Homo sapiens: one gene and its partner. The protein of the gene in region 1 purifies or fractionates together with the protein of each later gene. This does not show direct contact. Each region holds a gene or a part of one and is shown in the gene's direction. Other genes may lie near its edges.

What was found.
Region 2: the proteins of ADAP1 (region 1) and ANP32A purify together in Homo sapiens (co-purification; one study listed by BioGRID). This does not show direct contact.

Annotation. Positions count from the first base shown.
Region 1 is NC_000007.14:902,377-906,383, reverse strand, and holds part of ADAP1 (arf-GAP with dual PH domain-containing protein 1), read left to right. Parts: intron 1-1,211; coding exon 1,212-1,324; intron 1,325-2,111; coding exon 2,112-2,258; intron 2,259-4,007. UniProt on the Homo sapiens protein: GTPase-activating protein for the ADP ribosylation factor family. Binds phosphatidylinositol 3,4,5-trisphosphate (PtdInsP3) and inositol 1,3,4,5-tetrakisphosphate (InsP4). Regulates the incorporation of CD63 and CD9 into multivesicular bodies.
Region 2 is NC_000015.10:68,778,035-68,780,465, reverse strand, and holds the end of ANP32A (acidic leucine-rich nuclear phosphoprotein 32 family member A), read left to right. Parts: coding exon 1-56; intron 57-323; coding exon 324-385; 3' UTR 386-1,931; downstream 1,932-2,431. UniProt on the Homo sapiens protein: Multifunctional protein that is involved in the regulation of many processes including tumor suppression, apoptosis, cell cycle progression or transcription. Promotes apoptosis by favouring the activation of caspase-9/CASP9 and allowing apoptosome formation.

The DNA of each region.
Region 1 (4,007 bases):
CTCCTTTCTCCTTTCTCTTTCTCCCTTTCTCCTTTCCCTTTCTCCTTTCTCCTTTCCCTTTCTCCTTTCTCCTTTCTCCTTTCTCCTTTCCCTTTCTCCTTTCTCCCTTTCTCCTTTCTCCCTTTCTCCTTTCTCCCTTTCTCCTTTCTCCCTTTCTCCTTTCCCTTTCTCCTTTCTCCTTTCTCCTTTCTCCTTTCTCCTTTCCCTTTCTCCTTTCTCCTTTCTCCTTTCCCTTTCTCCTTTCTCCCTTTCTCCTTTCTCCCTTTCTCCTTTCTCCCTTTCTCCTTTCTCCCTTTCTCCTTTCCCTTTCTCCTTTCTCCCTTTCTCCTTTCTCCTTTCTCCTTTCCCTTTCTCCTTTCTCCTTTCCCTTTCTCCTTTCTCCTTTCTCCTTTCTCCTTTCCCTTTCTCCTTTCTCCCTTTCTCCTTTCTCCCTTTCTCCTTTCTCCCTTTCTCCTTTCTCCCTTTCTCCTTTCCCTTTCTCCTTTCTCCTTTCTCCTTTCTCCTTTCTCCCTTCTCCCTTCTCCCTTCTCCCTTCTCCCTTCTCCCTTCTCCCTTCTCCCTTCTCCCTTCTCCTTTCTCCTTTCTCCTTTCTCCTTTCTCCTTTCTCCTTTCTCCTTTCTCCCTTCTCCCTTCTCCCTTCTCCTTTCCCTTTCTCCTTTCCCTTTCTCCTTTCTCCTTTCTCCTTTCTCCTTTCTCCTTTCTCCTTTCCCTTTCTCCTTTCTCCTTTCTCCTTTCCCTTTCTCCTTTCCCTTTCTCCTTTCCCTTTCTCCTTTCTCCTTTCTCCTTTCTCCTTTCTCCTTTCTCCTTTCTCCTTTCTCCTTTCTCCTTTCTCCCTTCTCCCTTCTCCCTTCTCCCTTCTCCCTTCTCCCTTCTCCCTTCTCCCTTCTCCCTTCTCCTTTCTCCTTTCCCTTTCTCCTTTCTCCTTTCCCTTTCTCCCTTTCTCCCTTTCTCCTTTCTCCTTTCTCTTTCTCCCTTTCTCCTTTCTCCTTTCTCCTTTCTCCTTTCTCCTTTCCCTTTCCCTTTCCCTGCCCATCTTCCTATCTCCCTGTCTCCTCCATGTCCCCTCTCCCCGTCCGTCTCCCCCTGTCCGTGTCCCCCGTCCGTGTCCCCCGTGTCTTCTCCCCATGTCCCCTCTGTCCTGTCCATCGTCACTCCTTTTGTTTCCTCCCCCCCATCCACTGTCACCGACTCGTGTCCCCTTTCCCCCACAGGGTACCGTGAGGGTTTTCTCTGGAAGCGTGGCCGGGACAACGGGCAGTTTTTGAGCCGGAAGTTTGTGCTGACAGAACGAGAGGGTGCTCTGAAGTATTTCAACAGAAATGATGTGAGTCACAGACGGGGGTGGGGTGGGGGCCTGTCCCAGGGCGGCATCCCGGCCTCCCACACTGGGGCCTGTGGTGGCCGCGTCCATCCGCAGCTGCCCTCCCTGCTGCCCCCCCCGATGGGGACGCTCCAGGAGAACCGGCCTGTGTTGGGCTGAGCCTCTGTGTGCCGGACCCAGCGTCCCCCAGGGTGGGGCAGCTGAGGCTTTCCAGGAGCCTGGGCGGCCGGGCGGGGCCCCCTGAACTCAGGCCCAGCCGTGGGAGAGGGAGAACCTAGTCACTGGGCCCCTCTGGAGCCAGCCAGGACCCCAGAAAGCCCCTAGTTTTCCTGGAGGTACCCTGGGGAGACTGGACTGGGACAGGACAAACACATTGGCAAGAACAGTGGGGTCTTCACAAGGTGGCCCCAGACCCATGGGCTGATGGTCAGAAGCACCCGCCCTGAGCCGTGGCGGGCACTGGCTGGAGGTGGGCTGGTGGCTGGGGCCTGCCCCTGTGGGAGCTGCCGTGCCGTGTGGGGCCCGGGGCTGCCCCCGGGGAGGGAGGTGCAGTGTCTGATGTCAAGTGCCACCTGCACAGTGTCGTTGAGGTCCCCATCACTCCTGGGAGGGAGGTGCTGTTACCTTCTGCTTACAGACCGGGAGGCCAAGGCTCAGAGCGCTTAAGTAACTTGCCCAAAGCCACACAGCACAGCAGGTGCGCCGCCAGCACCCACAGGGTCTGCCCTTCCTGCTCCCTTGAGCTTGGACGACGGCCCCTGTGAGGTGCTTAGACCCCACCCCTTCTCAGGCCAAGGAGCCCAAGGCCGTGATGAAGATCGAGCACCTGAACGCCACCTTCCAGCCGGCCAAGATCGGCCACCCCCACGGCCTGCAGGTCACCTACCTGAAGGACAACAGCACCCGTAACATCTTCATCTACCATGAGGACGGGAAGGTGGGTGCTGGCGAGCACTCGGGCCCGGGTGGCACAGGAGGGTGGGCCCTCAGGCCCGGGTGGCGCAGGAAGGTGGGTGCTTGGACGGTACGGGAGGGTAGGCACTTGAGCTAGGCGGCATGAGAAGGCGGGAAGTCGGGCTGGGCAGCGTGGGAAGGCGGGTGCTTGGACGTGTGGGAGTGTGGGCACTGGCGCCGGGCAGCATGGGAAGACAGGTGCAGGAAGGCAGCTTCCCAGGGCCGGGCTGCCCAGGAGCCGGATCACCACGCTGTCTCTGGGGCCACCCAGCTTGGCCCTGTCAGTGGGGGCTGCCAGCTCGGGCTAGAGGATCCACCGCCCCCACAATGCCCAGAGGGGACCTCGGGGGGAACTGGGGTCCTACGGGGAGGAGATGTGGACGGTAGCCGGCTCTGGGGTGGTTTGGGTAGGGTTCCTTTGGCTGCCCTTGGTGTGGCGGCGGGGAGGGTGGGTGTACCCCGCATCTCTGGAGGGCTTGGGGGGAACCCAGGTAAAACCCCCACAAAAGCTATCCTTTTGTCTTTGGGCCAGGCTGCAGGGGGCGCAGCGGTGGGCCCAGCCTCTTTGTTACTTAGGTTCTTGTTTCTATGTTTATCACACGTCTGTGTGCACACGGTCTAAAGCGCTATATCGTTCCTAAATCTTGAGAAACAGAAGTTTGAGGTCCCTCCTAACCCCCGTTGGGAATTGGTCCCCATATCCAAAAATAAGCTGCCGGTGTCGCTGCAGATTTACCCACTTTAGGCACCATCTGACAACTTCCCACGTGGAAGTAGAGGTTCCAGCTCTTTCCATCCCCTCCCACGTGCCCGTCCCCTGCCTGCCGTGCTCCGCTGGCATCTGACCCTGGGTTTGTTAGGGGGCCGAGTCGGGTGCAGCCCCTGGCCTCAGAGCACGCTGTGATCGCTCTTCCCACAGTAAGCGGCTGTGTTCCTTGCCGCAGTTGACCATGTGTTGCCGCAGACTCTCCGCAGACTGTTGTCTCTGGAGGCAGTCGGGCACCAGGAGCCTGCGACTCCCACGGCCTGGAGATCTCGCTCCTGCAGCCTCATCTGGTTCCTGGGTGGAGCCCTGCTGCCCGGGTCCTACGTCTTTCTCGTTTACTTATTCCTCTTGGTAGAAGTGATGTGCCTGGAGGGAAAGGGGTCACCTGGCACCTTGGACTGTTCTACCTCCTGCCTGGCTTAGACTGTGGCTAGATATAGAATTCTAGGTTGGAATTAATTTTCCTGCTAATTCTGAAGGCTTTGCACCACGGATTCCTCCATCCTAGTACGTTTGTCCCGCGGTTTTGAAATTCTCCAATGCTGTGCGTGTGTTGGCAAGGGTCCCTCGTCTTTTCATGTGCTGGGTACAGGCCCAGGGTGGCCCTTCCAGTCCAGTTACTGGTTTCCATGAGGTCAGGGATTGCTTTCTTATCTAATGATTTCCTCCCTCCACTTTCCCTGTTCTCATTTTCTGAAACTCCTGTTATTGGTGCTCTTAAACTGGTTCATTTTTCTTCTACTTTCTGGGAAATTTCTTCAACTTTGTCTCCAACACTGTGTTGAGGGTTTTGTTTCTGCTGTCATGCATTTAGTTTTTCAGAGAGCCTTTGGTTCTTGGAGTATTTATTTTTCTTTCTTTCTTTTCTTTCTTTTTTTTTTTTTGAGGCAGAGTTTCGCCCTTGTCACCCAGGCTGGAGTGCAGTGGTGCAATCTCGGCTCACTGCAACCTTTGCCTCCCTGGTTC
Region 2 (2,431 bases), on another chromosome or scaffold:
AGAAGGTTATAACGATGGAGAGGTAGATGACGAGGAAGATGAAGAAGAGCTTGGTGGTATGGCAGCCTTTTTACTCTCAGCTGGTAGCAGCCTGGCCCTTTCACTTTGGCCTTAGATTGCTTAGACTCAGAGGCCCCTGGCAGTGGGCAGGACACTCCTGTCAGAGGCCTCAGATTCCCCTTCCAGCTGTGCAGATGTCTTGCCTCGGTTTCCAAGGATGGCACAGCTTGCTAGTCATGGGTCCCCTGACTTCTCACTGGGTGGGTTGAGTTAAAGAGGTGGGATTAATAACTAATCTAAATGCCGCTTTCTTACTTTTCCAGAAGAAGAAAGGGGTCAGAAGCGAAAACGAGAACCTGAAGATGAGGGAGAAGATGATGACTAAGTGGAATAACCTATTTTGAAAAATTCCTATTGTGATTTGACTGTTTTTACCCATATCCCCTCTCCCCCCCCCCTCCAATCCTGCCCCCTGAAACTTATTTTTTTCTGATTGTAACGTTGCTGTGGGAACGAGAGGGGAAGAGTGTACTGGGGGTTGCGGGGGGAGGGATGGCGGGTGGGGGTGGAATAAAATACTATTTTTACTGCCACTCTTTATTTTTTTCCCCTACTTTTTCTTTGTGTCCGGTTTTTGTCCCTGTAAATGCGATAGCTAAGTACACACTAAGTGAGCATTTGTTCCTGACTCTCAAAGAGGATGGTTTGGAGTTCTCTTACGTTTCCTGGTATTTCCCAAGTCTCTTGGGTTGGTTGGAAGGCTGTGGCTGGTCTCAGTTTGGTTACTCAATGCCCAGGAGGGGCTGAGCACCAGCCATATCTTTTGCTTTGGTTCACATGATGATACCTGCTTTTCTCAGGCCTGCTAGAGGCATCCAACGCCCTGGTTTGTAAATAGCAACCTAAAGGCGTATTTTGGCACTGGTCTGGGGACATTCCCCATCTCTCATCCCTTTTCCCCCTTCACAGATGGTGGTGGGCTTCGCTCTACAAAGAGGACTCTGATGTTACTCTTGAGCTTATGAGCCAGAGAGCTGAAAACCGCAGGCTTGTTGTGTTAAGTTACAAGGAAAATGGATTTGGTAATTAAAATTAGAAGAAACACACCTTCAAACTTCAACTTCTTTAAAAGAAAAAAAAAACTGTCCTATCTTGTTCTGTAAAATATTAGAACGCTTTGTTTTACAAAAAATGATGAGAGAATTCTTCCACATGTACTTCTGTGCTTAGAACATTTTTACGGACCTAAGCGCTGGAGACGTTGCTGCATGTCGGCTGGGTTTTTTTTTTCATACACCCGAGCACGGAAAAACTAACGCAAAATTGTATTTTCTTACCTAGTGGAAATCTGAAATGACTGCAAATTCCTAGTGAATGTACAGGTTTGCTTTCGTGTCCCTCTTCTGGTTGCTTTAGAAGTGACGTGTAATTTCTGAACCCATGTTTCATCTGTATAAAAGAACATCTGCACCAGTTTTTCTCCTGCCCCTCAGAAGAGCCAAACTTTGAGTTTTATGTCTGTTTGTCATTGATAAATTTCAATAAATCTTTTTATACAATTTTTTTGGGGATGGCTTCTTTGAGTCCAACAGGCCATTGATCTTTTCAAGATGCATTCCAGATGAACTGCTAGGTGAGGGGGAAGCTTCATTTTTGTTACCTGATAGAATAGCTTTTCTTATGAGATATATATAATGTGATACTATGTTTGGATATTTTTGGTCTTAAAGCAAGACTCAGTGGTGTATCTTCATTAAAAGCTTCCTTTAAAAAAGTTACAGAGTTACTAAAAAAACAAGTACCCAAACAATCAAGTTGGGCCAACCTTGGAACCTTGTTTTGAATATCTTTCATTGTTTTGTTTGTCGTATTGTAAAAAGAATGTATGGTTGAAAACTCAGGAATGTTTATAAAACAAATTATTTCACAAACCCAGAGGTTTACATATGGTGTTTTATTTTGTTACTTTACTTAACAGTATTATAATCATTTCCCTGTTTCTTTAATTTTCAAAAGCATGTATCTTAAATGGCTACATAGTAGTCCATCAACTATATTCTGATTTACTTAATTCTAACCAAATGGTTAGATGTTTTCATTATGTCCAGCTTACCCCTGTAGTGGATATTGTTATATTACTACTTATTTATACTTTTTGTGGAGTTCTTAGTACAAACTCTTAGAAGTAGTAGAGTCATTGGACCAAAAGCTAAAAACATTTATGAGGCTCATGTACAAGGTTCCATGTTTTCCAGAAGAGTTCAGCCAGTTTACTGTGGTTGTTTATACACGTACACATATACTCATTCTTATGTATTCATTCTATACAGCCTTGAACCCACAACAAGCCCTAGTTCCTTACAATGTCTTATAGTTGTTGTGTGATTCCAGCAGTGTAAAGTGTTTCCAGAAGAGCCCGTGACCCACCTCA